Homo sapiens: one gene and its partner. The protein of the gene in region 1 interacts with the protein of each later gene in a biochemical or structural test. Each region holds a gene or a part of one and is shown in the gene's direction. Other genes may lie near its edges.

Region 1 (3,811 bases):
AGAGGTTGTTGTTATCTGAGCCATCCAACATGAATTTAAGAATATATTCCAGGCTGGGCGCGGTGGCTCATGCCTGTAATCCCAGCACTTTGGGAGGCCGAGATGGGTGGATCACCTGAGGTCAGGAGTTCAAGACCAGCCTGGCCAACATGGTGAAACCCCGTCTCTACTAAAAATACAAAAATTAGCCATGCGTGGTGGCACATGCCTGTAGTTCCAACTATTTGGGACACTAAGGCAGGGGAAGTGCTTGAACTCGGGAGGCAGAGGTTGCAGTGAGCTGAGATTGTACCACTGCACTCCAGCCTGGGTAAAAAGAGTGAAATTCCATCTCAAAAAAAAAAAAGGAGACAGGGTCTTGCCCTGTTGCCCAGGCTGGAGTGCCGTGGCACGATCATAACTCACTGTGGCCTCAAATTCCTGGGCTCAACTGATTCTCCTGCCTCAGTCTCCCAAGTAGCTGGGACCACAAGTACATGCCACCATGCTAGGCTAATTTTATTTTTATTTTTAGAAAATAAAATATTTTTTATTTTATTTAGGCAACATGCTATGTTGCCTAGACTGGTCTTGAACTCCTGGCTTCAAGCTATCCTCTTGCCTCAGCCAACCAAAGTGCTGGGATTGCAGGTGTGAACTGCCATGCCTGGCTTTCTATTCTCTATTTCTAGGAGATAAGCTTTTTGAGCTTTCACATATGAGTGTGAACATGTGGTATTTATCTTTCTGTGCCTAGGTTATTCCACTTAACGTAATGTACTCCAGGCTCATCCATGTTGATGGGAATTACAGGATTTCATTCTCTTGTAATGGCTGAATAACATCCCATTTTGTGTATATAGTCCACATGTTCTTTATCCATTCCTCTTTTGATAGACACTTAGGTTGATTCCGTATCTCGGGTATTATGAGCAGTGCTGCAGTAAACATGAGAGTGCAAATATCTCTTCAACATACTGATTCCCTTTCCTTTGGATATATATTCAGCAGTGGCATTACTAGATCATGTGGTATATCTATTTTTAGGTTTTTAAGGAATCTCCATACTGTTTTCCATAATGGCTCTACTAATTTACATTCCCACCAATGATTTGGTTGAGTTTATTCCTCACTCTGAGCAGCATGTTAGCTGGACTTAAACCCCGTCCAGCTTGTCTACATCTGGCCCATCACTTGCCAGTGGGAAAGGCACTTACTTCTTTGTATCTCAGTTTTCTCATCTGTCAAATGGAAATATAACAGTAATTAATTCACATGGCTGTGTAAGGATAAATAAGACAGTACATATAAAAGGCTTTCACCTTTTATAAGAAATAGTGCTTCGATGTTACCCATTATTATTATTTTATTTCATCTTATTTATTTATTTAGATACAAGGTCTCATTTGTTGCCCAGGCTGGAGTGTAGTGGCACAATCATAGTTCAGTGCAGCCTCAAACTCCTGGCCTCAAGTGATCCTCCTCCTTCACCCTTCTCAGTATTTGGGGCCACAGGCGTGCACCACTATGACCATCTAAATTTTTTTTTAGAGATGGGGTCTCAGTATGTTGCCCGGGCTAGTCTTGAACTCCTGGGCTCAAGTGATCCTCCCACCTCAGCCTCCCAAACTGCTGGGATTACAGGCCTGAGCCACCATGCCAGGCCTCATCTCTATATCTTTAGGGTTAGTCACTGGCACCTTAATTTGTTCATTTGGTGATGTCATGTTTCTCTGATTGACCTTGATCCTTATGGCTGTGTGTCAATGTCTGTGCATTGACATAGGTACCTAAGCCAGTCTTCATTGCCTGGCTTTGTTTGGGCTCGTCTTTCATCAGGAAACCCATAGGAGATTAGGGAGAGGCTGATTGGTCAGGACCCTAAGCCCATGACTGCTTCAGCTGTTGTAGTGCTGGGGGGTGCTCTAAGCCCAGCATCACTGTGGTTGGAATTCTTTGGCCACTGAGGCTGACACAGCCCTGGGTTATGCCTGAAGGCCATAGCTGCCGAGACTGGCACAGCACTGGGGCACGCCCAAGACCCACAGCTGTGATGGCGTGCTTGCTGCTGCTGAAGTTATTCAGGGCCCAGGGCCACTGTAGTTGTCAGGTAGTGATGTGGGCCAGATCGCCAGTCCCTGTTACTGGGGCTGTGGGTTCTCATCTGGCACTAGGGTGGGGTGAGATCTGCCTGTGGGTACTGGTCTAGTATCAGGGTGATGAGGCTCTGCCCAGTACTGGGTTTTACTGTAGTGAGCCTAGTCCTGGTGACAGGTGACAGCGTGCTGGCAGCCATCACAGCCCTCGCTCGCTCTCGGTGCCTCCTCGGCCTTGGCGCCCACTCTGGCCACGCTTGAGGAGCCCTTCAGCCCACCGCTGCACTGTGGGAGCCCCTTCCTGGGCTGGCCGAGGCTGGAGTGGGCTCCCTTAGCTTGCGGGGAGGTGTGGAGGGAGAGGCAGGGGCGGGAACTGGGGCTGCACGCGGTGCTTGTGGGCCAGCGCGAGTTCCGAGTGGGCGTGGGCTCGGCGGGCCCGCACTCGGAGCGGCCAGCCGGCCGGCCTGCAAGCCCCAGGCAGTAAGGGGCTTAGCACTTGGGCCAGCAGCTGCTGTGCTCGATTTCTCGCCGGGCCTTAGCTGCCTCCTGGCAGGGCAGGGCTCGGGACCTGTAGCCCGCCATGCCTGAGCCTCCCCACCCCGCAGCCATGGGCTCCTGTGCGGACCAAGCCTCCCCGACCAGCGCCGCTCCCGGCTCCACGCCGCCGAGTCCCACCGACCACCCAAGGGCTGAGGAGTGCGGGCGCACGGCGCGGGACTGGCAGGCAGCTCCACCTGCGGCCCAGGTGTGGGATCCACTGGGTGAAGCCAGCTGGGCTCCTGAGTCTGGTGGGGACTTGGAGAATCTTTATGTCTAGCTAAGGGATTGTAAATATACCAATCGGCACTCTGTATCTAGCTCAAGGTTTGTAAACACACCAATCAGCACCCTGTGTCTAGCTCAGGGTTTGTGAATGCACCAGTCGACCCTCTGAATCTAGCTACTCTGGTGGGGACTTGGAGAACCTTTGTGTCCACACTCTGTATCTAGCTAATCTAGTGGGGACGTGGAGACGTTTTGTGTCTAGCTCAGGGATTGTAAACACACCCATCAGCACCCTGTCAAAACGGACCAATCAGCTCTCTGTAAAACAGACCAATTGGCTGTCTATAAAATGGACCAATCAGCAGGATGTGGGTGGGGCCAGATAAGAGAATAAAAGCAGGCTGCCCGAGCCAGCAGTGGCAACCTGGTCAGGTTTCCTTCCATGCTGTGGAAGCTTTGTTGTTTCATTCTTTGCAGTAAGTCTTGCTACTGCTCACTCTTTGGGTCCACACTGCCTTTATGAACTGTAACACTCACCGCGAAGGTCTGTAGCTTCACTCCTGAAGCCAGCAAGACCACAAACCAACCAGGAGGGACTAACAACTCCAGACGCGCTGCCTTAAGAGCTGTAACACTCACCGTGAAGGTCCGCAGCTTCGCTCCTGAAGCCAGCGACACCACGAACCCACCGGGAGGAACGGACATCTCCAGATGCGCCGTATTAGGAGCTGTAACACTCACCGCGAAGGTCTGCAGCTTCACTCCTGAGCTAGCGAGACCACAAACCCACCAGAAGGAAGAAACTCCGAACACATCCGAACATCAGAAGGAATAAACTGCGGACATGCCCCCTTTAAGAACTGTAACACTCACTGCGAGGGTCCACGGCTTCATTCTTGAAGTCAGTGAGACCAAGCACCCACCAATTCCGGACACACTGGGTTCCAAGGCGAAGTACTCCACTTACCTCT
Region 2 (3,811 bases), on another chromosome or scaffold:
AAGGGAGATGGCGAGATCTGAAATGAAGTGGAACTTCTGTTTTTTTTTTTCTGCTGAGTTTTTAGAATAATTCCATTCCTTGTCTCCATGTATCTTCCTCCTGGAACAGCTTCCGGAAGTTCAACATTCTGACTTCAAACCAGAAAACTTTGACCCCCGAGAAGGGGCAGAGTCAGGGTTTGATTTGGGACTTTGGTTACCTGGTAAGAATAGTTTGTGACCTATGCTTTTATTACTATTTTTATTTTTTTGAGACGGAGTCTCACTCTGTCCCCCAGGCTGGAGTGCAGTGGTGCCATCTTGGCTCACAGCAACCTCCGCCTCCCGGGTTCAAGCAATTCTTCTGTCTCAGCCTCCTGAGTAGCTGAGACTATAGGCACACACCACCATGCCCGGCTAATTTTTGTATTTTTAGTAGAGATAGGGTTTCACCATATTGGTCGGGCTGGTCTCGAACTCCTGACCTCAGGTGATCCACCCGCCTCAGCCTCCCAAAGTGCTGGGATCACAGGCATGAGCCACCATAGCTGGCCTGCTTTTAGTCCAAAGGAACAGGGGTTGGGGGAAGTTCCCAGGGCTTGAGAGGTCTTGAAGCCAAACAGGGGTTCCAGGGACACTAGGGTGCCCACTCTGGCATTTTCTCTCCTTCCCTTCAATTCACAGACTCTGGTGGAGCAACGTTCAGGTGGTTCAGGAAAGGGCAGCAATAAGGTGAGATCTGGACAGAGGACTCGAGGCAGGGGGAGCTTGCCAAAGAGCCTTCTGATGACTATGTCTTTGGCTGTCCCAGGGGCCACTAGGTGTGACAGAGGAACTGCACATCATCAGCTTCACGGTCAAATATACCTACCAGGGTCTGAAGCAGGAGCTGAAAGTGAGTGAAAATGGAGGGCAAGGAGAGAGAAAGCAGCTTTGGAAGAAGGCATAAGAAGGGGATAAACAGAAGCCTCTTGGGGTGGGTTAGCACTCCTTTCCTCTAACAAATACCTGCAGCTAGAAACATCACATCCCTCTCTGTGACTCCTGTCTTCTCCCCAGACGGACACCCTCCCTGTGGTGATTATTTCCAACATGAACCAGCTCTCAATTGCCTGGGCTTCAGTTCTCTGGTTCAATTTGCTCAGCCCAAACCTTCAGGTAGGGGAGTGGGGCCGACAGGTCAAGGCGCGAGAGGAGGGGTGTGGAAGCTTGGTGTGATAGGTTGCTTCTGAGCCAGCCTACACTGCTCCCACCCCTGCAGAACCAGCAGTTCTTCTCCAACCCCCCCAAGGCCCCCTGGAGCTTGCTGGGCCCTGCTCTCAGTTGGCAGTTCTCCTCCTATGTTGGCCGAGGCCTCAACTCAGACCAGCTGAGCATGCTGAGAAACAAGCTGTTCGGTACAGATTTCCTTTTCTCTCAGCCTTTCCCCAGCCTTAGTCTTTTCTGTCCCTCTGTCCTATCTATCCCAGGACCCCTGGCTTCCCTCATCATCTGTCTGTGGCTATCTGTCCCACAGGGCAGAACTGTAGGACTGAGGATCCATTATTGTCCTGGGCTGACTTCACTAAGGTAACTCCCTGAATCCTGTGGAGCTGCTGGATCTAGCCCACATTCCAAATACTGGCCTTCCCACGTCCCTCCTTCCCTACACCAGAGGCAACTCCTCAGCTTTTGCTACCTTTCCATTCCTCCTCCAGCGAGAGAGCCCTCCTGGCAAGTTACCATTCTGGACATGGCTGGACAAAATTCTGGAGTTGGTACATGACCACCTGAAGGATCTCTGGAATGATGGGTAAGGCCTTGGTCACCCTTCCCTCATGGGCTTGTGCTTTCCGGGCTTGAGAGTGGAGTCTCTGCACCCTCACGTGGCAAGCAGGGAGAGAGAGCAAAGACAGGTGCAGGCCACGTCTCCTCACATTTGTTAACAATAATAAGGCCGGGTGTGGTGGCTCACACCTGTAATCCCAGCACTTTGGGAGGCCGAGGCGGGCGGATCATGAGGTCAGGAGATCGAGACCATCCTGGCTAACACGGTGAAACCCCGTCTCTACTAAAAATACAAAAAATTAGCCGGGCGTGGTGGCAGACACCTGTAGTCCCAGCTACTCAGGAGGCTGAGGCAGGAAAATGGCGTGAACCTGGGAGATGGAGCTTGCAGTGAGCCGAGATTGCGTCACTGCCCTCCAGCCTGGGTGACGAGCAAGACTCCGTCTCAAAAAAAAAAAAAAAAAAACAACCAATAATAGCCATAAACAGTGTTTGTGAAGCATCTCCTACATTCCAGAGCTTGATGGGTGCTCTTCATTAATTCTCTCATCTCATCCTTACAACCATGCTGAGTGGTGGGTTTTGCCAGCTTCATTTCATGTGAGGAAACTGAGTTTCAGAGAAGTTAAAGAACTTACCCAAGGGACACAGTTGATATTCAAATCCAGGCCTATGTGACTCCAAGCCCATGCTCTTTCCACCACACTGCCTACCAACTTGTGTAGCATTTGGCTTTTAAAAGTGCTATTCATGACCAGGCACGATGGCTCACGCCTGTAATCCCAGCATTTTGGGAGGCCGAGGTGGGTGGATCACCTGAGGTCAGGAGTTTGAGACCAGCCTGGCCAACATGGCGAAACCCCATCTCTATTAAAAATACAAAAATTAGCCGGGTGTGGTGGTGGGCGCCTGTAATCCCAGCTACTCAGGAGGCTGAGGCAGGAGAATCGCTTGAACCCAGGAGAGAAGGTTACAGTGAGCCAAGATCGTGCCATTGCACTCCAGCCTGGGTGACAGAGCAAGACTCTGTCTCAAAACAAAACCAAAAAAAAGTGCTATTTGTGGCCAGGCGTGGTTGCTCATGCCTGTAATCCTAGCATTTTGGGAGGCTGAGGAGTACAGATCACTTGAGCCCAGGAGTTCAAAACTACCCTGGGCCACGTGGTGAAACCCCGTCTCTACGAAAAATACAAAAGTTAGCCAGGCATGGTGGTGTGCACCTGTGGTCCCAGCTACTCTGGAGGCTGAGAGGTGGGAAGATTGCTTGAGCCCGGGAGGTCGAGGTGGCAGTGAGCTGTGATCATGCCACTATTCTCCAGCCTGGGTGACAGAATGACACCCTGTCTCCCAGAAAAAAAAAAAAGTGCTGTTCATCTGTGTGATCTCACTGAATCTTCGTACTTCAAACCCTCGGAAGGTGGCTATTGTCAGCAAAGTGAAGTGACTTGTAAAAGATAAAAAAAAGCTAAGTGGCAGGGCTTGGTCCAAAGCCTGGATTCCAAACCTGGGCTGTTTCTCCATACAAGGGGAGCAGGGAGGCAGGGGCCTGGTGGGGCAGGGTGTTGGGCGGTGTCTCACAGCTGCTCTCTGTGCTCCAGACGCATCATGGGCTTTGTGAGTCGGAGCCAGGAGCGCCGGCTGCTGAAGAAGACCATGTCTGGCACCTTTCTACTGCGCTTCAGTGAATCGTCAGAAGGGGGCATTACCTGCTCCTGGGTGGAGCACCAGGATGATGGTCAGCTGCTCTGCCCTGCCATTCCCACAGCCTCTCCTTTCTGCCTGGCTCCCCTCTTGCCCCTCTGCCTGCCCTTGGCTTCCCTGGCTCTGAACTGAATCCCTCAGCTGGTTTGGGACTGGGCAGCCAGAGCAGAGAGCTCCAAGGCCCGGCCTCTTCCCTCAAGCCCGCCTGTTCCTGCATTCACTCTCCAGACAAGGTGCTCATCTACTCTGTGCAACCGTACACGAAGGAGGTGCTGCAGTCACTCCCGCTGACTGAAATCATCCGCCATTACCAGTTGCTCACTGAGGAGAATATACCTGAAAACCCACTGCGCTTCCTCTATCC

What was found.
Region 2: the proteins of USP18 (region 1) and STAT2 form a complex in vitro, tested with the Homo sapiens proteins (one study listed by BioGRID).

The regions. Positions count from the first base shown.
Region 1 is NC_000022.11:18,153,096-18,156,906, forward strand, and holds part of USP18 (ubl carboxyl-terminal hydrolase 18), read left to right. Parts: intron 1-3,811. UniProt on the Homo sapiens protein: Interferon-induced ISG15-specific protease that plays a crucial role for maintaining a proper balance of ISG15-conjugated proteins in cells. Regulates protein ISGylation by efficiently cleaving ISG15 conjugates linked via isopeptide bonds.
Region 2 is NC_000012.12:56,346,489-56,350,299, reverse strand, and holds part of STAT2 (signal transducer and activator of transcription 2), read left to right. Parts: intron 1-109; coding exon 110-203; intron 204-663; coding exon 664-711; intron 712-790; coding exon 791-874; coding exon of another isoform or gene 875-928; exon of another isoform or gene 929-955; intron 956-1,038; coding exon 1,039-1,137; intron 1,138-1,216; coding exon of another isoform or gene 1,217-1,240; coding exon 1,241-1,376; intron 1,377-1,448; coding exon of another isoform or gene 1,449-1,495; coding exon 1,496-1,548; intron 1,549-1,676; coding exon 1,677-1,771; intron 1,772-3,097; coding exon of another isoform or gene 3,098-3,128; exon of another isoform or gene 3,129-3,315; intron 3,316-3,344; coding exon 3,345-3,481; intron 3,482-3,675; coding exon 3,676-3,811. UniProt on the Homo sapiens protein: Signal transducer and activator of transcription that mediates signaling by type I interferons (IFN-alpha and IFN-beta).